Linked DNA regions of Homo sapiens. The protein of the gene in region 1 interacts with the protein of each later gene in a pairwise test. Each region holds a gene or a part of one and is shown on either strand. Other genes may lie near its edges. The genes, in order: SLC6A15 and SLC41A2.

Evidence for each region.
Region 2: the proteins of SLC6A15 (region 1) and SLC41A2 interact in binary tests that used the Homo sapiens proteins (3 or more experiments, as listed by UniProt).

Annotation. Positions count from the first base shown.
Region 1 is NC_000012.12:84,905,021-84,921,803, reverse strand, and holds the start of SLC6A15 (sodium-dependent neutral amino acid transporter B(0)AT2), read left to right. Parts: upstream 1-9,004; 5' UTR 9,005-9,281; intron 9,282-16,783.
Region 2 is NC_000012.12:104,948,234-104,955,882, reverse strand, and holds part of SLC41A2 (solute carrier family 41 member 2), read left to right. Parts: intron 1-893; exon of another isoform or gene 894-4,392; intron 4,393-7,649. UniProt on the Homo sapiens protein: Acts as a plasma-membrane magnesium transporter. Can also mediate the transport of other divalent metal cations in an order of Ba(2+) > Ni(2+) > Co(2+) > Fe(2+) > Mn(2+).

The DNA.
Region 1 (16,783 bases):
GGTTCTACGGGAAGTGACTTTAAGGAAAGGAGTCTGAAAGTGGTTCCAGAATCTGCTTACATTAAAAGGCTTTCCTGCCAGTAGTAAATGAGATTCTGACAATCTCTCTAGTGTTAGGAAAGAGACTACATAGCAGTGGTAAAACTGAGTCTAAGAAATGTCACCGAAGTATTAGTTGGGGGACTAAACTCAAGCTATAGGAGCTACAAATGCAATATTTGAAACCCAAATGTAGATATTTGATCTTGATTTAAACCGCTTCTGCCCCTTACTTTGAAGCCCATGAATGACATAGCCCCTTTTTCACTACGACAAGCTTCCCTCCTTTATTTCTTATTCTCTAACAGTGAGTAACTTTGCCTTTGTTTATTTTTGTGTTCCTCATGCAACAGAGACTAACATAACCATTTTATTAATTTACAATGTTGTCATTGTAATTATTGGACAATTCCCTGTGGAGGATGTTATAATGAGATTTTACTTACGTACCTTCCCTATAAAGTAAAGTTGGGGGCATCACGAAATCTTTTCCAGTGTTTCCAGCTCTCTGGGTGTTGTTCTTTGGCATGTGTTTTTCAGTAAAGATATACTGAGGTTGAGTAGGGAGGGCCACATGGTAGCATATGTGGGTCTGTGAAGAAGTATACATGGGTATTTATTTGATAGCAAGCAAACTGCCTTGCAATTAATAAACCCTAATAGCTTCTGGCTTAGTATTAGCATCTGTTAAGCTAAAGAGGCAACAGGGAATCAGCAAGGTTTAACTGTAGGTTGGGGGGAATTCTAAGCATAGACTTAGACTCTGCCTTAGCAGAGTCTTGTGTCCCAAACTTGGAATGGGAAGAGTGGTACCCCATAGAACCTGAAGGAATAATATGAGCAAAGACAGTGGACATCTTAGTGATTATCTCTGCAGATACATAACCCAATAATCAGATGATACCAACTCTTTTGCCTGGGACCTATAGGAAGTCCCAAAATCCTTGATATAAAAATATAGGAGTGAGGTGGGGGCACAGAGGATGCTTGGAGATTGCAAGGAGGCCCTAAGAATGAATGAGGTATACTTTTTTTTTTCTTTGCAGATAAATTGTATGTGAGTTCAGAGTTAGAAATTAAGTTAATTTATAGAAATAAGAGTTGCAGCTACAGTGGCTCCCCTTACCCACAGTTTTATCAGTTTTAAATTGCACTCCCTTCTGAGTAGTGTGATGAAATCTTGTTCTGTACCACACCATCCTGCCTAGGACATGAATCATTCCTTTGTCCAGATTCTTCATGCTGTAGACACTACCTGCCCATTAGTCACTTAGTATCAGCCTTGGTTATCAGATAGAATATCATGAGATGGCAATGCTTGTGTTCAATTCACCCTTATTTGACTTCATAATGGCCCCAAAGTGCAAGAGTAGTGACGCTAGCAATTTGGATATGCCAGAGGAAAGGAGTAAAGTGCTTTCTTTAAGTAAAATGTGAGGCTGTGAGTAGTGATGCAGGCCTGTAGTCCCAGCTAGCTATTCAGGAGACGGAGGCAGAATAATTGCTTGAGCCCAGGAGTTTGAGGCTACAGTGAGCTATAATTGAACCAAGGCACTCCAGCCTGGGCAACAGAATGAGATTCTGTCTCAGTAATTAAAAAATAAAAATAAAAATATGAAAGCTCTCAATACGAAAAGAAGAAACAATCGTATGCTGAGGTTGCTAAGATTTACATTAAGAATAATTCTTCTATCTGTGTCATTGTGAAAAAAAATAGACTTGTGCTGGTTTTGCCATAGCACTTCAAACTGCAAAAGTTACAGCCACAGTGCATAATAAGTGCTTAGATAAGATGGAAAAGGCATCAAATTTGTGGATAAAAGACCTTAAAAGAAACATGTTCCAACTGTTTGGCAATCCAGTTTGGTACTGTTCGTGATTTCAAGCATCCATGGAAAGTCTTAGAACATATTCTCCCAGGATAAAGGGAGACTACTGTACTGCTGAATGTGGTCTGATAATCCAAGGGCATTTACCTACTGAGGTTCTAGCATATGTCAAATTCAGATTTGGGAGGTGGGGGAGTAAATATTTACTACCCGCATAAAATTACGCATGCCAAATCCCTGTACACCTAGAGAATTCCAAATTCTCTAGGTCTAAAGCCAACTTCCAAATTATTAGACTAGTGACCAAATTATTAGACTAGTCCACCCCTATTATATTGCTTGTGGTGGGGAGGGGGGAAGGATGAGATACAGAAATAACACTGGGGGGTGGCCAGAGTTCACCATTACTCAGGGATGATGCTCTTCATTCATTTGAGTTCTCATGACTCACGATTCCACCAACAGCTGAGAAAGCCAGGCCCAAACATCACCATTTAATTATATGCTAGACCATCAAACTTTTTCTCAATGACTCAAACTCTTCAGTTCCTAGTATCCAAGGTAGCTATACTCCCTGTAGAATGTATTTTCATACATGAAGTGTAGGAGATATTTTATTTGTTCATGTTTTTGAGTGTTTAAAATTTTTTTTCCCTTTTGCTGTTTTTCTGTTAATAGTGCTTTCTTTCATTGGGAGAAGTTTATGCCACTCTGATCATATGGAAAAACGAACTTCATTTCTGAAGCCACCTTGGTTGGCTCAGGTGTAGGAAAGTGACCCAACATAGCCAAAGTCTTCCCTGGGAGGTATAGAAGTCAAAGAAGGAGGAGAAGGAGAATAAGGAGAAGGAGAAGAAGGAGAAGTAGATGGAGAAGGAAGGGAAGGGGAAGACAAAGAAGGAGGAAGAGGAGGAGGAGGAGGAAAAAGAAAAAGAAAGAAAACAAACCAACATCCCACATTTTTTTTTAATCTAAAATTTTTTTAAAAAAACTAAATCTAGGCCAGGCATGGTGGCTCATGCCTGTAATCCCAGCACTTTGGGAGCCTGAGGCGGGAGGATCACCTGAGATCAGGAGTTCGAAACCAGCCTGACCCACATGGTGAAACCCTTTCTCTACTGAAAATACAAAATTAGCCGGGTGTGGTGGCATATGCCCATAATCCCAGCTACTCAGGAGGCTGAGACAGGAGAATTGCTTGAAACCGGGGGGCGAAGGTTGCAGTGAGCTGAAATCGCGCCATTGCACTCCAGCCTGGGCAACAAGAGCAAAAATCCTTTTCAAAACAAACAAACAAATAAAAAACTAAATCCAGTTGGAATAGGATTATGCAATCATATGTGTCTTAAAGGTCTATGCCGCATATTTGAAGATTTGAAATCCACAATTAATAAGCTGGATTTAACAAATAAAACATACATACTCTGGAAAACAACATAGATAATGTAAATGAAAGTGAACAAGTACTAGGCCACAAAGAATGTCTCAACAAATCCAACAGAATTGATATCACAAATATTAAGTTTTATGACTTAAATGTAACTATAAGTAATAAACAGTAAAAAAGTTTAAAATATGCTCATAAATTAAGCAAATAAGAATTGAAATTATGGTTATTATTTTTAGGGCGGCCTCTTCAAGCCAGAATAGGTTCAGAGAGGCTCCTGAAATTATTTTAAATGAACACTTAAAGTATTATATAACCAAAATGTTTAGGTTGCAGCTAAAGCTATGCTTATAAAATAAATTATAACCTTGAAGCAATGTAGAAATTAAAATGTACTATATTTGTTCAAATTCAAAACCTAGGAAAAGACTGAACTCAAAGAAAGTAGGAGAAATATATAAATAACACAAGAAAAGAAATTTACAGAAAATAAAAAATTATAACACCAATAATATCAATAGTTGTTTCTTTGAAAAGACTCATAGATAATGTTTAGCATTTAACAGATTGAAAGAGATATGAAGAAAAGGTTGAAACAAAACCTATGGAGAAGTTCATATATCTATAAATGTAATCTAGGATTTAAAATTCAAAAGAAAATAGTACAAAAATTATTGAAGCACTTTTAAAAATTAGGTGAAATGAACACTTTAAAAGAAATGAATTGCCAACATTTACTCATTTACTCGAGAAGAACTAGTTAACTTGAATAGACCAATAGAAAAACTCAATAAATAATAAAACATATTGCTGGGTACTGTGGTTCACAACTGTAATCTTGGTATATTTAGAGGCCAAGATGGAAGGATTGCTTGAGCACAGGAGTTGAAGACCAACCTGGGCAACATGGTGAGACCCTGTCTCTAGAAAAATAAATATTAGGCCGGGTGCGGTGGCTCACACCTGTAATCCCAGCACTTTGGGAGGCCGAGGCAGGCAGATCATGAGGTCAGGAGTTTGAGACCAGTCTGGGCAATATAGTGAAACCCCGTCTCTACTGAAAATACAAAAAAATTAGTCAGGCATGGTGATGTGTAATCCCAGCTACTCGGGAGGCTGAGGCAGGAGAACTGCATGAACCCGGGAGGCGAAGGTTACAGTGAGCCGAGATCGCGTCACTGCACTCTAGCCTGGGTGACAGAACGAGACTCTGTCTCAAAAAATAATAATAATAAATAATAATAAATAAACATGAAAAAATTAACTGGGCATGGTGGCATGCACCTGTAGTCTCGGCTACCTGGGAAGCTGGGGTGGGAGGTTCACTTGAGCCTGAGAGGTTGAGGCTGCAGTGAGCTGTGACTCCAACACTGCATTCCAGTCTGGATGACAGAGCCAGGCCCTGTCTCAAAAGAAAAAAAAAAAAGCATAAATAAGAAATCTTTATCTTACCACTTTCCTACTTTCCTTGATTTCTCAGGTGAGTAAGAAACAATGTCTATATCATAAAAGGGTATTTGAGAGACTAGAAGTGTAAGCTTTGGATCTCATTTTACAGTGCTAGAATAACCTTATAAGGAGAATATAAATCACTTATCAAATACATTTATGTGTATAGATGAAAAACTCTATAAAAATATGAAAAAATTGGGTCCATCAATTTATATAAAGAAGAATAGTATCTCATAATCAAGTAGGATTTATTCCAGGGATGCAAGCATGGTTCAATAACAGAAAATCTATGAATATGAATTTTATAAAATAAATTAAATTGTAAAAACCATAAGCTTGTCTCTACGGAGTAAGACATATTTGCAATATCTGGGTCTTCTTTCTCTTCCTCAAACATATCAGTTAAATTCTTTTTTTAGGGTCTATTCACTGATCCTACAATCTTTTTAAACTGACTGAAAAGACCCTTTTCACTGACCTCTACCTGGAACTTACTCCTATCTCCTTATATCTACAAGGCTAACTCCTGCAAATCCTTCGTGTCCTTGCACCAGTAAAATCTCAATGAGACCTACCCTGACCACTCTATTTAAAATCTAACTCTACCCTCTTTCCTGGGACCCTCCTCAAAGTCAGGGGAACATAAACACAGGGGTCTTTTCACCATGTACAAGTTCATAGATTGAAATGTATTCAATGAGCAAGTATCACTTTTGTATTCAAATTATATTTTAGAAGTACGTATAAAAATCATGGAGCCTATAGAATCTGTATATACCAATGAGATTGTGCAGCAAATAAAAGGCACCTCATATACTTTATACAAAACAAATACCATTAAATATTTTGGTTTCGGATATTTAAGTAGCTATATAGACTAATGCTGAGCATAGTACCTGACACACATAAAATGTTTTAGAGACATAGTTTGCTATTATATTAAACATTATAATAAAAGGGCAACTTAAAAACTTAGTGGTTATAATCAGTTTACAGAGGTAGGGGGTGCATTTCTCTGTCAAAAAAATGACAGCTTGTGTTGGTATTTTTACTCGCCAGGGCCATTTAGGCTTTATCTTCAAAGTGCAGAAACAGTAAAATTCAATCATTTCCTACATTGTCTTGATTGCTTTACTATCTTAGTCAATTAGTTAAAAAATTGATTTGATTACTTTGACATTTGCCAATTCAGTTAACCCATCCTCTACCCACTGAGAAATCAGAGAACCTACTTTCCTTGCATCTACCTCTCAGTTCTTCATCAGTAGTATGAATAGAACAGAATATTCAGTGGATATTTTGGGCTTGTGCAGACTTTGTTTTCATAAAAATTTGGAGACCATATATCAAATGACATTTGGCATGGAGGACGTTAGAATAAAAAGTTTTATTAAAATGCAAAAAAAAAATCCTCACAATATACTCTACTGCCCATATAGCAATATAAGCAAATGAATTAATGTAATCTTAGGATGTGAATTGATTTCAATGTTTTTCTTTAGTATTGTAGTTTTAAAATCATCTTTTAGTAAATGTTTGAATTATTTTTCTGAACTCTAGTGCTACATCTTTGGAAGTTTTTACATAATATTGTTATTCTAAAGGATTTGGTTTAAGAAATAAGGTAGAAAGGCTTGGTGAGTCAGATTCCTTCTCTCCTCTAGTCAAAGAGAATACTCTTTTCCTTCATGTGATCTTTTATCAAATTTTAAAAATAATAAGTGTAACATTAATTGCTTAAAAGTAGGTATCAATTTCAGAAAGTGATTTAGATAGGGCAGGTTTTTATTTTTACAATATCTAACAGATGCCTTTTGACGGTATGACCTTGGACAATCAAAGCTTCAGTTTCTTTTCTGGCAATGTTTTGTAAAAACTAGACCTACATCACAGGCTTGGTGTAAGAATTAAGAAGTATATATTCATAAAATATAGAAATTATTCTGTACATTGCAAAGACACATAGTTAACATTAATCAATCCTTGTTAATATTATTAAATACAGTGTGGCTGGAAGCACTAGTCTCCCTTAACTTGTAGTTAATTCTTCCAAGTTCTGTTTTTTTCCTTTCTGTGTGCTGCCTCTTCCTCCCACACCAATCCCATGTTGGCCATTTTGCCCTATGGTGACAGAGAAAGAACTCTGTAATCATTACCCTAAAATATATTAGCAATTGAATTTTAAATCTTTGAAGACTCATTGTTGTTAAATTTTAAAAATGAATACATTTTACCTTTGGCTAGGGTTCCCAGACTCTCCTTTTGAGGTCTCTCCATTCTTCATCTATTTATTGTTTTCAAAGTTGCCTACCACTTGTGTTGAGATTCCACCCTTTCCTCCTGTTAAAATAGATAATTTGTTAAAGGGTTACAGGATAGTATAAAAGCACATGAAGTTTGAGGCCAGCATATCTGAATTTATTTCTCCATTCTGTCATTGAACAAGTTTTCTGACTTTTTGCAATTTTTTTTGAGTATCACCTCTCTCTAATCTCTAAATTAGGAAAAATCACCTCATTAATTAGTTGAGAGGATTAAATAAGATATTATTAAGCCCCAGGTACTTAGTGGGAAGCTTAAAACAATAGTTGCTTTCTCCTACTTCTCTTCATTGGCATTGAGACATAAATTAGTATCAGTCATTATGGAGGGCATCGCTCTACAAATATTTTGTGACCTATGCATATGTATTGGAATTAGGTATCAGACACTAGTGAAAAAGCGTGGGAGAGAAATAATTTTCGTACTTCTTGGTACTACCGTAAACGATTTCTGCCAGCATATGGATAACTTTGTTTCCCACAGATAATCCTAATCCTGATCATGGTGGACACAGCTCTCCTTATTTTCCTAAAATTTTCTCAGTTGTTATTGATAATGTTGGTACTGTATTTCAGTTTCTTTATATATCAACATTAAATATTTGCCTGTCACCAAAATGTGAAGTAAAAAGCAAAAAAAGTCCTATAAAAGGTTTATTTTGACTGTTTTTATTTTTTCACGTGGCGCATCTATCAAAGAGCATTTATTTACTCATGGCAGGGGAGGCGTATCAGGGAATCAAATCTAATTTAATTTCTTAACTTTTAATTTTTCAAAGTTGGGATTGGAAGAGAGGCTGAGAAAAAACTCTCTTGGCTGTTTTAAAAGCTAAGGATTAGTAGCAATGTTCTGACCTGAAATTTAGGTCTTGTGATTTCTTTCCAAGAGATTTTTCACTGCATGAAAAACCTGTTTGCAATGGCCTTTTTAATTTAATTCAATCTTAATTGGATACGAACCGTAAAAATCTAAGGGATTGTTAAAAGGCCTAAAAGTGCACAAAAGTAGTTTTTAAGAGTAATATTAATAATCTGGAAGTGAAAAATTAACTTTGCTAAATTACTGAACCTTTCTACCTAGCTTCTAGGTTCATTTTGTATTTCTTTCAAATTTTGAACGTTTCAAGGACGGAAAATTTCATCCTTAGAGCATACGCACTGTTTAGGGGACGGTTCAGCCATTTTCAAAAGGAGGCTAAGCTTTGTGTTCAGAGGTGTATATTTTAGGAATTCTCCACGTGGCTTAATTACGAGCATGCCTTGATTGTTAGCAGAGGTAAGTCAGGCTTCATCTTGTAATGAGACCCCTTGGAAAAAAGTCTGCTGCTGAGGCACCAACACAGGGTGGGTGAGGGCCAGCTTTCTAAAACGGCCTTTCATAACCTGGCGAGAATCACTGAGCGCTATGAGGCCACCGCCTGACGGAGAAGCCAATGCCCAGAGGCTTTTTCTTTCGCAAGAGATGTAAATGGCCGGCTTGGGGGAATAGGTAGGGAAAAGGGTTCTTTGGGTCACCCATTTTTTCTAGTCCCATTACTGACTCTTGGAGAATATTCAGATGGTGCCAGGTAGCACCATGCCTATTATTATTCTCACTGAGACAAAAGTCAGCGGCTGGTAACTGGTGTCCATTCTTTCGCTTGAGTGGGTTGGAGAAAGACGGCATGGCTGGAGGAATTTGTTTTGTTTTGCTTTGGAGCGGGCTTCCTCAGTTGCATCCTGCATCGGGCGGGCACAGCCCCGGGCTCTGGGAAGACGCCGCTCGGCAGCCGCAGTGGCCGCTGCATCAATGGGTTTTGGGGCAGGGAGGTGCGGAGCCCAGCCTGCGCTCCTGGCTACCCCTCCGCGCCCCGCCGCCGCCCACAGCCTACCCTTCTCCTCTGCAGCCGGTAGGCGGCCGTAACACGGGCGGGCCGAGCACGTGGGCGCCTCCGTCACACCCTCACACATACACACACGCGCGCGCGCACACACACATACGCATGTACACGCGCACCCGCACCCGCGCGCCTGTATCCCGTGCTGTTTCCCTGGCAGACACACAGGCGCTCACGAGTCTCTCCTTGCCAGCCTGCAGGGCGGCGACCCCCAAAACCCAGCTCCGGGTCCCAACCTAGGCAAGAAGCTGCTTCTCTGCCAACAGCTCCTCTTCGGCCTCCGTCACAGCCACCTGGACCCTACCCTTTCGCGACTGCTGCTGCTGCTGCCCGGACGTGGAAGCAGCAAGAGGCGCTTGGTCAAGACACACTGACGGTAATGGCAAGCGCCTACGCTAAGGGCACAACTGGGGGTGAGGTGGGGCTCGCCATTAGCCACCCAGGAGCCTGGGCACCAGCACCGGGAACGAATTGATGGATGGATGCCGGGAAGGACTCGCTGCGTCCTGGGGTGGGAGGAGGGAGGGCAGCTCAAAAGCCCTGGGAGGGAGAAGCTGGGCTGGGCGGGCAACCGTCTAACTCTGCATCTCTGTACAATCAGGGTGGGGGGCGACAGGCTGCACATGTAAGGGGAAGCACATGGGTTGAAACGTGCCGCCATCCTTTCTTCCCGTCGTGGAAATTGCCCACAGCATCCCCAGAGACCTACTCGTTTCCAAGCCAAGTCGGGGTTGGTTGAAGGGTGGGGTCCAACACGGGAAAGTCCAAGAGGAAAGTTGGGAGGGTTGGGGCAGAGAGAGACGCGAGGTGAATTGGAAGCTAAACCTCGTGCAGGTGGGCGATGGGGCGGGGAGAGCAGAGAGCTTTATTCCTCATTCGCTTCCGTTCGCTTTAGCAAAGGCAGAAGGCGACTACCGAGGACAGAGTGTTTTCACGTGACCACAGTTCCCCTTTGCTTGAGGTATCCTGTGATAAATGGCCCGAAAGGGGGCCTTTCGCCGTACGAAAGGCACGTGGCTGCTGGAGAAATCACGGCTCCTGTGTTTCTGCGCATCCTGGAATTTGAGAGTGTGGCGGTGAGGGTGGTGCTGCTGGGACTGTAAGAAGATGGGAAGCAGTTAGAAACCCAGATCGTTTCTACCTTTCTTTCACTAGGCTGGTCTGTGTGTGACTGGGAAGAAGACGGTATTGAGTACAGGGAAATCCTTGCACTCTAACGTAGCGCACCAACTGGATACATAAGAATGAATCAAGACGCCCGAGGCGTTCGGGAACAGGCATGACCCACCCAGTGGCACAGGCTGCGGGAACGGGAATTATTTTTCCTGAGCTGAGAAGCAGCCTTTGATGTGCGTTTTAGGAAGCAAAGCCCCCAGGCTCGCGCTCTCCAGCGTCCCGCTTTCCCTTTCCATCCTCCTCCCTAGCTGGGAAAGGCTGGAGTAAGACGGGGCGGGGTCCGGACTCCGGCGCAGTGACGTAAGCAGTGTTTGGGTGCTTATGCAAATAAGTCTGCGACGGTTTCTTCTGGTCTTGCCGTTTTCCCCTCCAGATCTTATAGGTAGACCCAATCTTAGTCTGCACCATCCTTGCGGTTCACTACTTAAGACGTATGGGAGAAATGAAGGATTTGCTTTATATGCTGCTTTGGGGCTCCTCATCGCCCATGCTGTAAAAGCTATTTTCTACCTGTCAATGCCTGATTGCTTTTCTGCTGTGCCAGCAACAAAGTGTTTGTTTTGAGGAATTATTATGTGCAGACACAGCCCCAACAAGCCCCTCACCCACCCAACCTCATTTCTGCAAGATCATTGCTGAAACACAGACCTATTTATGTCTTAGGCGCCCAGTACTGGGCTTGACTTGTACGTTCTTAATAAATACTTAATGATGGACTAAATCTTCTTTGAACAGTGTTAGGTTTTGAAGGGAAGGCGAGGGTTAAAGACACACACACACACACACACACACACGGAAAGAGGGCGGCTCAACAGCAAATTCAGGCTTTCTGTCCAGCATAAATCCTACAGAAGTGGAGGACCAGCCTAATGCCGGAGCCCGCTGCCGCTTACAGGCTGGGGCCATTTATAGGTACGGGCAGAAGGGGTCTGAGCAGTATGGCTTGCTGCTCCGCGGGATATTAATAAGATGCTTCCATGAAGAGGCGGTTCTGGCTCTTGTTCCGGCGCGATGTCGTTCTGTTGTTCAGGGTGTTCCTTGGACCTTTGTCCAGCAAGATATGATAGGGATGTCTCTTTAGTTAGGCCTTTGTCCAACTCGTGGTCAGTTGGTTAGACGGGATGTTTCTCACAGCTCGAACCCCTGTGAAATGTTTCGCTTTCACCAAGGTCTGCAAAATAGCAGGGAGCTTACAACATGGTGCAGTTTGGACTAACAAACAGTATGTATTTTTTTCTCTCATATTAAATTCAAGATATTTGACCATCAAAATCAGGCGATTTTATTTTTATGTGTTGTTGCCTTTTCTATGGAATCATCAATGATCCATGTGTATTTGTTGTGGTAAAACATATCCCAACAAATTTAAAATGGAATTTATTAACCATTTTTCTCTAAATAAAGCTTTCAGTTTGTGTTTTTTTTTAGGATGACAGGAATTAATAGGATTTTTAAAGAAAGATAATCTTTTACTGTTGATAAGCTTTTCTTTTTTCTGATTGCACATTATATAGTTGATTGAAAAATTATTTTATAATTCTAATATAGTTAACTCGAGATGTAGTATTTTAATCGAATTAAGAAAGTTATTTTTATATGTTTCTAGGAGATCAGTACTCTATCACTGAATAAATATGAAATAATGCAGAATCTTAAAACTGGATAACAGTTATGAGAGATGCCAATAATCAGATGAGATGCCTTCCTTGTCACCTACTGAAACATTTAAAATAAGTCAGAATAGTTACTAAACTCTAAAGTCCGTATTCATAGTTACTACCTTACCCAGTGATCATAGTTGAAATTGTAAATATGCTTCTCTTGTCATAAAATATAATTTGTATATGAATAGGTAAGATATTTGCATTCTTTTTAACTCTGGGATTATATCATCTAGGAAATTGAATCATTGACTTAGAATAGCAGACCCAAAAGAGAGCTTGGTGGCTATCAAAAGCTCCTAAAAACTTTTCTTTCACTTCTCAATGGACCTCTCACCTTGTGGAAGAGTATGTTAATTCTTTATTACTACATACATATGCATGATAGGATATATTAGTATATTCTTATGCAGCTGTGCAGAGTAGATTTTGAAATGGTTTCTCAGCAGATAGTATTAATAAAAATCTACAGGCATAGTTGGATGCATGAACAACATTCAAGGTTACATAGCAGGAATCATTAGATTTATTTCTACTTTGCTTATCATACCACTCTTCTGGCTGTCTTTACTAAACAATTTTTGATGTATTTATCTGCTTAAATATTAACTTTGACCAGTAATGATCATCTCTTTTTCTGTGAACAACAAGCCCTAAAAATAAACTGGGATATAGGGCAATTTCAAATGCAGAGTATCACTTGACACAGGGCAGAGCTGTAAGTTGTGTTCAGCCTTGAAGGTCACTTTATTTCCTTGTGATTAATGTGCTAAGGTATCTTTTCACATAAGATGAATTGACTTTTATTTTTAAATAGAATGCATACTTTGGGAACTTTTTCACCTATCAGATTGGCAAAGATCAAAGAGATTATTTGTTATACAGAAGACAGTAGAAGAAAGCGGGCACTCTCATGCATTGCTGGTGGTAGTGCAAATGGACACAATTTTTATCAAGGGCTATTTGGTAATATTTATCAAAATTATAAAAGCTCATACCTTTTGATCAAGCTGTTCCAGTTCTAGGAATTTATTCTACAGATATGGAGATGCAAGATATACAAAATAATTTGTTGGAACATTGTAGTAGCAAATTATCAGTGATGATCTAAATATATGGTATACCATACCAAGGAATATCATACAGTAGTTTTTTAAATGAAGCTATTACATTGAGATCAAGAGTTTTGAAGAATTTATTAGAGTGAAAAACTAAGAGGTAGAATTATGCACATAGTAATAGTTGTGTAAAAAGAAGCAGATTGGGGGCTGGTGGGGAGAAAACACATATTAGCTTGAATATATATAGAGTGTTTAAGTGTGTATACACACATATATATATGCTTGAATATACAGAAAATATTTATTGAAGATTTTGGTTACTTATTGGGAGGTACAGATGGTACAGTATATTCTAGGGAGAAAGGGTAGGAAGATATATATATATATATATATATATATGTTTCTTTACTCTTTGCCCTTTAATATCTTATTACAGTATTTTGTATTCAAAATATAAATATATAAAATATTTTAAAGTAAAGACAGAGGCAAATAAACACCTTTGGTAGAGTTTTATTCATTCATCACATGCCATGGAATTAGTAAGGTACAAAAGTCAATGAGTATTTTGACGACCCCCTGATTTTTGTTGTTGTTTCTGAATTTACAAGAAAGCTTCCTCTTTCAAGAGTTTTAGAAATAAAATTATATTGGAGAAGCATATTTAGTACTTGATTCAATAAAGTTATTTAATTATACTAGCAAAAAAGGCATAATTTTAGGGTATTAAAAAAAGTCTTAATTTTGAGATGGGTGTTGAGTCCCATGTAGTTGGTAAGAAATAACACAGAGAGTTCTTGTGAGCTCTTGACAAATTTCCTGCAAATATAACATTTTGTAATAACTATATTAAACCTTCCTAATCAGAATATTGACATTGATACAGTTAAGTTACAAAAGAGTTCCATTACATAAGGATTAACTGTGTTGGCCTTTTATAACCACAACCACTTCACTCCAGTCCCCAGGCTCTCCTTAACTCCTGGCAATCTCTACTCTGTTCTCCATATTTATTTTTTGGTCATTGCAAGAATATTATATAAATGTAATCATACAGTATTCAATGTATTTGAATTGATGTTTTTTCACTCAGCATAATTTTCTGTAGATTCATCTAAGTCATGTATATTGGTAGTTTTTGCTAAATAGTAGTTAATGGTATGGATGTGCCAGAATTTATAACTATTTACCCATTGAATGACATCTGGATTATTTCTAGTTTAGGGTTAATGTAAATAAAACTGCTATGGACATTCCTGCATAGGCTTTTCTGGAACATAAATTTTCATTTATCTGGGATAAATGAGAACACTTGCTCGGTTATGTGGTAGCAGTGTGTTTAGTTTTTAAATGAACAGTCGAACTTTTCCAGAGTGTTTGTACAATTTTACATTCTCACCAGTAATGAATAAATGATCCATTTTCTCTGCATCCTTGCCAGAATTTGGTTGTCACTATATTTTGGCCATTCTGATAGGAATATAGCAACATCTCATAGTATTTTATATTTGCATTTACCTAATGGCTAATAATATCGAGCCTCAGTTCTTGTGCTTCTTTGTCATTCATATATAATATTCATTGAAATATCTCTACCTGTTTTCTTATTTTATTTATAATGGTCGAGTTTTTTTTTGTTTTTTGTTTTTTTTCGAGACGGAGTCTCCCTCTGTGGCCCAGGCTGGAGTTCAGTGGCGCGATCTCAGCTCACTGCAAGCTCTGCCTCCCTGGTTCACACCATTCTCCTGCCTCAGCCTCCCAAGTAGCTTGGACTACAGGTACCCGCCACCACGCCCGGCTAATTTTTGTATTTTTAGTATAGACAGGGTTTCACCGTGTTAGCCAGGATGGTCTCAATCTCCTGACCTCATGATCCACCCGTCTGGGCCTCCCAAAGTGCTGGGATTACAGGCGTGAGCCACCGCGCCTGGCAACGGTCGAGTTTTAAGAGTTCTTTATATATCCTAAACACCAGTCATTTGTGACCTTCAAATATATTCTCCCATTTTTAAGCTTTTTTTTTTCCATCCTCTTAATAGATTCTTTCTCATAGCAAAAGTTTCAAATTTTGGGGCCTAGTTTATCAATTTTTGTGTTTCTGAATCCTGCTTTTGTCATGTCTAAGAGCTCTTTGGTTAACCCTAGATCTCAAAGATTTAATCTGATGACTTGTTTCTTAAAGTTTTATATTTTCCACTTAAGTTTGTAATTCATTTTGAATTAATTTTTGTATAAGATATGAGATTTAGGTTCAGGGTTATACTTTTGCCTAGGGATGTCCAATTATTTCCCGAACAATTTGTTGAAAGAGCTATTTTTTTCTCCATTGAAATTGCTTTGGTACTTTTATCAAAAATTAGTTAGGCATATTGTGTGCACTTCTTTCTGGGTAGCCTCTTCTGTTACATTCATTTTTGTCTATCCTTTCACCAACCTCACATAGACTTCATTACTGTAGCTATATAATAAGTCACAAAATTCGATAGAATCATTCCTCCCACTTCATTCTTCTGTTTAAAATTGTTGTAGCTCCTCTAATTTTTTGCCTGTTCATATAAATTTTGAAATAATCTTCTTTGTAGAAAAATGTCACTGATATTTTGATAGGAATTCATTTAACCATATATCAATTTAGGGAAATTTGACATCTTTCTTATGTTGAGTTTTCTAATCCATGAACATGGCATGTCTTCCCATACATTTAGATCTTCTTTCATTTACTTTATCAGCACTTTGTAGTTTTCAGCAAAAATGTACCATCCAGGTTTTGTTACATTTTCGTGTAATTATGTCAGTTTAATGATTGTAAATGCTATTGCATTTTTAATTTCTGTGTTCACTTGTTTATTGGTAACATATGGAACTGTAAATGATTTGTGTATGTTTACCGTGTATTCTGTGACTTTTTTGGACTATTACTCTAGAAGGTATTTTTGTAGATTCATTAGAATTTATAATATAGACAATCAAAATATCTGCAAAAAAATTGAATACTGTATTATTACATTCATATAACATTCTTGAAATGACCAAAAAATAAGTATGGAGAACAGATTAGAGGTTGCCAGGAGTTAAGGAGAGCCTGGGGACTGGAGCACAGTGGTTGTAGTTAAAAAAGGCCAACACAGGGAATCCTTATGTGATGGAAATCTTTTGTAACTTGGCTGTTCTTCTTTCTTGATTTATGTGACTTATACATAAATTTGTAACTTGACTTTTCTTGTTTCTTGATTTATGTGACTTATACAGTTAGGCTTCTGTGTCCTTAGGTTGTGCATCCACAGATTCAACCAAATGCAGATGTGAATATAGTACTTGTGGGATGCAGGACCCACAGATGAATGTGGGACTTGAGCATCTGAGAATTTTGGTATTTGTGGGAGGTCCTTCAACAATGTCCCTTGGACACTAAGGGCTGACTGTATTTTCTTTTTCTTGCCTTATGCCACTACTTAGAACTTCCAATACTATGTTGAATAAGAGTGTGAGAGTGGACGTTTTTATCTTGCTTCTTATCCTGAAGGAAAAGCATTTAGTCTTTCACCAGTAAATATAATATCAACTGTAAATTTTTTGTAGATGCTGTTGATCAAGTTGAGAAAGTTTCCTTCTGTTCCTAATTTTTGACATTTTTGATCATAAATGGACATTGAATTTTGTCTTTCCTGCATCAGTAGATATAGTCATGTGATTTTTCCTTTAGCCTGTCATTATTGTATATCACATATTGATTTTTGAATATTGAACCAACCTTGAATACTTAGAATAAACCCTACTTGATCATGGAATATAATTCTTTTTATACATCACTGAATTCTGTTTTCTAACACTGTGTAAAGGAATTTTGTGTCTATATTCATTAGGAATATTGATCTGTAGTTTTTTATTTTTTACTATGATCTTTGCCTGGTTTTGGTACCTGAGTAATACTGCTTTCATAAAATGAAATACAAATTATTCTATCATCTTCTATTGCCTGA
Region 2 (7,649 bases), about 20 Mb from region 1:
ATTTTTGATGGCACTAAAGTTAAGAGCCACTTACAGCTAAATGAATGCTGCTGTGCTTATTTCATGGTTAATTTCCGAGCGCACACAAATTCAGCATCAGGTCTTTCATGGCCAAAAAAAAAAAAACCACTAAAAAGACCTGATGTTACCTCCCAGGAATTCAAACTCAATTTTCCACTGATCTAATATGATTGTTGTTAAAGAAAAAGATTATTCGATGATACTTGTTAAAATGTGGTAAAAAAAAGTCTATTCAGGACCATTGTGATAGGTAAAGGGACCATGGAATGGGATTTTGCAGTTTGGGAGGAAGACTAGGCTCAATTCTGAATACGGTGTGGGCAAATGGGAATTTATAGCCAAGGAGCAGTGTCATGGTCAGTGGACAGAAAAGTACTGAGAGGAAACACCGGGGGTAGTGGATATTCAGACCAAACCAACCTAACAGGATTCTTGCTGAAGACAGGCCAGAGTGATCAGACACCACCTGGGGGACAGTGGAAGCTGAGGAACCTAATCAGGTTGTGAGGGTAATCAGGTAGCGAGGGTAATCAGAAAGCGAGGGCCAGCTGGGTGCAGTGGTTCATGCTTGTAATCCCAGCACTTTGGGAGGCTGAGGCGGGCAGATCACCTGAGGTTGGGAGTTCGAGACCAGACTGGCCAACATGGTGAAACCCTGTCTCTCCTAAAAATACAAAAATTAGCCTGGTGTGCTGGCGGGCACCTGTAATCCCAGCTTCTCAGAAGGCTGAGGCAGGAGAATTGCTTGAACCCAGGAGGTGGTGGAAGTTGCAGTGAACCGAGATCACGCCACTGCACAGAGCAAAACTTCGTCTTAACTCAAAAAAAAAAAAAAAAAAAAAAAAGCAAGGGCCAAGAGTCAGGGGCTGTTGCTAAACTCACTTGACGAGGTTCTTTGATAAAACTGCATTTTACAAGGAAGTGCACAAATGGGCCTAGAAGGTTCAGGGGCCTGAGTAAAATTTCGTCAAGAAAAGAATCTTTCTCATTGTTGGAAAGTACACTTCCCAATTTCCAAAACTTTATAGAAAATACAAGTAAAGGTTTCCAAATGGAAATAATAGATAAGCAACTGATAAAAAGCATGTGAAGCATAGCCTAACTCTGCTTCAACCTATACATTACAAAATGATGGATATATGAATTAACCCTTTTATGCCACTGCCTTTATTTAGAAGAATGAGGCTGGTAATTTCGGGTTTATAACCCAAAATGTGTTTTTACTTTGTTTTAACTAATGAAATTATTATCAAACGTATTGAAAATATAAACTATCCAACCTAATATTGATTGTTACCAACTTACCCAATGGATATACAAATATCCTGCAGCTACAGATGTTTTCTCTGCCCGCTGGGGTTTTTAGTGGCGCTTATTGGGAAGGACTGAAAGTAGAGGGCAGTGACAATTGGGAATCGCTATGGAGATATCCCTGAGAAGTGATGGTCACAGCTGACCTGTCTCCTTTATGGTAGATGAGGGTAGGGACACTTTTTCTTCTCTCTGAACGTACTGCAGTTAGATTTATTTAGCTTAAAAATAACAAATACAGAAATATTTAGATGGAAATGACTAGAACTGTCAGTTATTCTATTTTAATGTGAATGGATTTAATCAGATTGCTTTCTTCTTGGTTAGCTACACTAAGGAAGTGGGAGTTTTGACTTGAGGAGGGATAGTAGATGTAAGTATTATGAGATCGTGGAACATTTTGGAATATTGGGCAAAGTTTGCCCTACTTCTAAAAGTGAGGATGTTAAAAAATGGAAAGCTTTAGATAGCATGAGGGATCTGAAAGATGAGAAAAGAAAAGCAAGAATGAAACAATTTGGAAGGAAAGATTGTAGGATATAAAGACAGATTCGACTTATTTAGACATTTTTGCCCAAGAAAAATGTCTAAATAGGAAAAGTGGAAACCTTTTCCTTCATTTGATCCCTCTTTCCTTTTGCCCCACCTTGCTGCTCCATGCTAACTGTTCTCCTAGGACCCAGAAATCAGACTGGGATTACTGTTGTTCATGTTGAAGCTTTCAAGTGTGCTAGTTACACCCCTTCTCTCTCCATATTCTAGTCAAATTGAGATCAGACTCAAGCCAGATAAGAATTTAAATACTATTAAAATAATAGTGTAATTTTCATTTCCGGTAAAGCTGGATTGGAGAACTGAGCTTAGACCCATGCTTACTGTTCTTTCTTAATTTACCTACCCAGATGAAACTGTTGCACCAGGAAATGGAAGGGAAAGTCCTGTCCTAAGGAGCTTATCTTATAGCAGTTAGAATGGAAAGGAAAACTTTCTCTCCTTGAGGGCACAGCAAGTCCAAGAAAGCCAGTGAGAGCTCACGGGTGGAGCCTGTCTGAACAGTTGACCTTTATACCTATCCTAGCAATTAGATAAGTCACTTTCCTGTGGGAGGAATTAGTGATGGGGGTGGAGAGAAAGAAAAGTGTTCCTTTAATCTTGTTTTCTCCTACTTAGAGGAGTGAAAGTTCTGTTGTCATTGCAGAGAGAAGTAAACAGCCATCCTCTCATAGTTAAGTATGTTATGGGAAATAAATAGTGTTTTGTAGGCTAGCCTAGGAACTAATTCACCATTTATAAAAATGAACTGACTGTATATTTTCCTTGGAAATAACTAAATCTCTTAGACACTTTTGAGTGATTATTTTATTGTGTAGTTAAATATATAGATTATTCAAGTCTATTTCCTTGTTTTACCAGTACTGGTTAAATATTTATGGAATGTCTAATACGTGACAGGCACTGGGCTAGGCTTTGGGATTCAGTGGTGAACAAGAATGGGTCCTTGCTCTAAGAGTTACAACCTAGAAAAACAGTTAGTACAAGTACCATTACGATAAAGCGTAATAAGCATTGGTTAAGTGTAGAGTGCTTTGGAACCACAGAAGAAGGAGAACTTATCTATGAGGGCCAGGGACATGGATGTTAAAGAGCTGAGATCTTAAGCTGAATAGGAAGTAGCTAGGTAAAAGGGAAGAGTGAGGTTGAGCAGAAGTGTTTTGAGCAAAAAGAACATGTGGAAAGGCCAAGAGGTGTGAGAATGTGGTACACTAAAGTGACATTTTTTTTCTTTAACTGCAGGCACCTACTAGTAGATTGTGAAAGCAAATTAGTGAGTTGTAATCCACATGTTTTTTAAAAGGAATACAATAGAAAATGAGGGTGTGCCACTCATAGATACTTACTGGATTGTAGGGGTAAGTAGGGGTGTTTATGCAGGATTTAGTTAACCTTATTAAAGAAGTTGGATTTATCTTAGAGGAAATGACAAATCATTGAAAAGTTCTAATCGGGGCCTGATTAGAGATCTTTAGAAAAAGGTCTCTTTGGGTACCTGGTCTTTCTTAACTCGGATGTAAACTTCAAATTCATTGGCCCAGCATTACAGGTATTCCAAAACCTGGTTCCAATCTATTTCTTGTAAAAAATCTTCCCACTATTTTTGTTATTGGAATTTCCCAGTTCATAAAGATTCGTTCGCCTAAGTACCTTTGCACCAAGACCAAAAGGTCTGTGAGAACAGATTTCACTTCTGTCCTTTAACATTGAGTCTCTGGCAACTAGTATAGTGCCTGGCTCACAATAGAGACTAAGCAAATCTTCGTTGATAGAGTCTAAATACCTTTAATATTAGGAACATTATGCAGTAGTAGACATGACGTTGCTGTTTCTGGTAATGTCTGCTTTGGGACAAAGAAAAAGTTTTCATTCAAATTTTTTTTCTCAGTTGAAATCATGTTAATGATAGAACTGCATACATTTATTAAAAAGATAATTTAACAGAGGGCATTCTTACATTGAAACAGTAGTAGAGATAATAAAAAGAACAATAAACATTGTGGTTTTGATGTTTTCCCAGGGAGTACAGTGACACAGATTGCTCACAGGAGCAGCCAATCCAGAAATCATTTCTGTTTTGTTTGAACTTAGAGGCATTCTCTGAGCACTCACCCAAAGGCAGTGTTAGAAAAATGGCTAAGGACAAAAGGAATAAATTATTAGGTTGGTGCAAAAGTAAGTGCAGTTTTTGCAATTAAAAGTAATGACAAAAACTGCAATTACTTTTGCACCAACCTAAATGGATGAAAATATATCAATCATATGAGCTTAATGAAGAATCAACAGAAAATAGATTTTGTTCTTACAAATGAAAATAGAACATCCATATACCCTAAAGAATTTACAAATAAGAATTTAATGATGTCAGTTTGTTGCCAGAGCATGATTCTACTGTCACAGTATTATGACTTCACAGAATTAAATTGTGAAACCCAACCATAAAGGAAAAATTCTTTCAGTGTTTGGTTCCGATCAGTGGTAAAAGAAGTTACGAACAGTTCATAAAAGGTAAGGAGATTTCAGTTCTGATTCAAATTTATCTTACTAAATTTTTGATTTGTGAAAAATTTTGCTCGTTAGTTTTTAAGTTAGGGTTTATGTATCTTAAACTGGAATGCCAAAATCAAATTTTGCTAATATGAGATGGCTTTTAAAAAGCACTCAGAGAATTTTATCTTTTTATATTCCACAGAGTCTTAATTTAAGTAGTACATTGTAGAACTAAATGGAAACTGTTAACTTGTATAAGTTTATCCTAAGGAAATAACTCTAAATATGGGAAAGTATTAGGCACAGAGATATTCATTTTCATTGCAATGTAATTTAGCCAAATAATGTCCTGCTATAGGGAAATTATTTACTAAAATATGGGAATCCATTTGAAAAAGTTTAACCATTAAAAATACTTTTTTAGAGCAATAGTTTCTTCCTGTTAATTACTTTTTAAATTAAAAAGTAAAAAGTACTCAAACAAAAGTTCAAATAATATAAAAATATGTAGAATCAAAAAAAGTGAAAATGATATTTCAATCTTGCTTTCTATTACTGCTTACCCCTCCCCCAGCCACCTCAATCTAGGCATACCCAGTTCCTTAGAGGTAAATGCTTTGAGCACTTTGTTATTAGCCTTGCAGATCTTTTTCTAATCCAGTGGTTTTTAAACCGAGAAGGAGTTTCAGGGTCTTCTCAAGTTGGGTAATATGGGGACCCAGTGGGTGGAAACCAGGGTGCTTCAATGGGTACTGCTTTGCTTTTACAAAACTGTTTTATATATTGGGATTTCACATAGGGTTTAATTTAAATAAAGGGTTCCTCTGCATTAAAAATAAAGGCTTAGCCAGCCACAGTTCCTGTAGTCCCAGCTATCTCAGGAGACTGAGGTGGTAGGGTGGCTTCAGTTCAGGAGTTCGTGACCAGCCTGGGAAAAGTAGTGAGACTGTGTTAGTCCGTTCTCACAGTGCTATAAAGAAATACCCAAGACTGGCTGATTTATAAAGGAAAGAGGTTTAATTGACTCACAGTTCCACATGGGGAGGCCTCAGGAAACTTACAGTCATGGCGGAAGGCGAAGGGGAAGCAAAGACCTTCTTCACATGGCAACAGGAGAGAGAGAAGTGTGAGGAGTGAAGGCAGAACAGTCCCTTATAAAACCATCAGATCTCATGAGAATTCACTCAAAATCATGAGAACAGCGTGGGGGAATCCAACCCCATGATCCAACCACCTCCTACCAGGTCTCTTCCTAGACACGTGGAGATTATGGGGATTACAATTCAAGATCAGATTTGGGTGGGGACACAACCAGAGCATATCAGAGACCCTGTCTCAAAATTAAAATAAATGAATAAATGGAAGTTATTTATTCTTCCTCATTTAGAACTGTCCTCATTTAGAAAACAAAGTCCTAAGCCCCATAGTCAGGCATTCCATGTCTTCCCCAAGTTTCTCATTTTGCTGCTTGGTCATATTGAATAGTCTACTCATACCTTCCCATTTTCCCATCAGTTTTCTGCCTGATTACCATTCACCTTGTTGAAAGGCACTTTTCCTTCTCTCCCCTCCCCACCTCCCCTCAATTTCTCTAAATCTTACCTGTTCTTAAAGGTTCAGTGCACCAGCCAGGCACAGTGGCTCACACCTGTAATCCCAGTACTTTGGGAGGCTGAGGCAGGCGGATCACCTGAGGTCGGGAGTTCGAGGCCAGCCTGACCAACGTGGAGAAACCTCGTCCTTACTAAAAATACAATATTAGCCGGGCGTGGTGGCACATGCCTGTAATCCCAGCTACTCAGGAGGCTGAGGCAGGAGAATTGCTTGAACCCAGGAGGCAGAGGTTGTGGTGAGCTGAGATCGTGCCATTGCACTCCAGCCTGGGCAACAAGAGCGAAACTCCGTCTAAAAAAAGAAAAAGTTTAGCTCACCATCATTTTGTTCATTCCTCCTTTCAACTTGTAGTTGGTGAACACTTACATTTTGTCTAATACTGTGTGGATAATTTGCAGAATTTGGTAGCAAAAGCTACAAAATTAAAGGATGATCTTTATGTAAATCTGTATGTAAATCTTTGTGTAAAGGATGATCTTAATGTAAATAAGTGAAATAATGTGTTATAAAGTAAGAGCATTCTGGGAGCAGGTACTAAAGTTATAAGTGTTCCCTTATTTCTTCCACACTGTTTTTTATATTGGTACTTATAAACAAGGCAATTTATGATATGATTACTTTTCTGGATCTTCAGAAAATATTTGTTCATTTATTTTACTTATTTATTTATTTATTTGAGACGGAGTTTCGCTTTTGTTACCCAGGCTGGAGTGCAATGGTGTGATCTTGGCTCACCGCAACCTCTGCCTCCTGGGTTCAAGTGATTCTCCTGCCTCAGCCTCCCAAGTAGCTGGGATTACAGGCATGCACCACCACCATGCCCCACTAATTTTGTATTTTTAGTAGAGATGGGGTTTTTCCATGTTGATCAGGCTGGTCTCGAACTCCTGACCTCAGGTGATCCACCTACCTCGGCCTCCCAAAGTGCTGATTACAGGCATGAGCCACCACGCCCAGCCGTATTTGTTCATTTATTGATTGAGTAACAGAAGATAGTGCAGAGATAGTTCACCTATGGATCAGAGGTGAAACCTGTGAAGGAGCTGTTTCCATTCTTGAGCAATAAACTGTGTTCAAAAATAACTTGAATCCAGTTTACTGGGTTCTAGTGTTTGGCATGAAAGGAGCTGAGAGGGAACACTGATGATACACCTTGGTTCTATCATCCTTGTGCCCATGGCTGTGTACACTGGCGCCAGAGGATTATAACACAGAGAAATGTCTACAGGGGCTTCCTTATCATTAACTGGTTAGTCAGAAAGTCATGAACTCAAGTCCTGTGTCTTTATCTTACTAACGTTGTAACTTTGGGCATATTATTTAACCTCTCTGAGATGCAGTTTTCTAAACTGTAAAGGATGAACATACTTATCTTCAAGGTTTTTTTTACAAAAGATAAAATGAGGTCAGTATATATAAGAGAAAGCAATTCTTTTTGCTTTAAATAGTATTGATGTAGATAGAATGGGTGATCTCCTTTCCTTTAGGTTTAAGTTTTTATATATTTTTTAGGACTTACTGATTAGAGTTTAGTTCTTTGGAGCAGTGCTTTTTAAGTCTGAGAGTGGCATTTTTATAAGCTATTCATATTCCTGGTAAGTATAAATGATGTAGGAAGCAAATTAGGCCAAAGGACAACTTCCTGGGGAAATAAACATTTT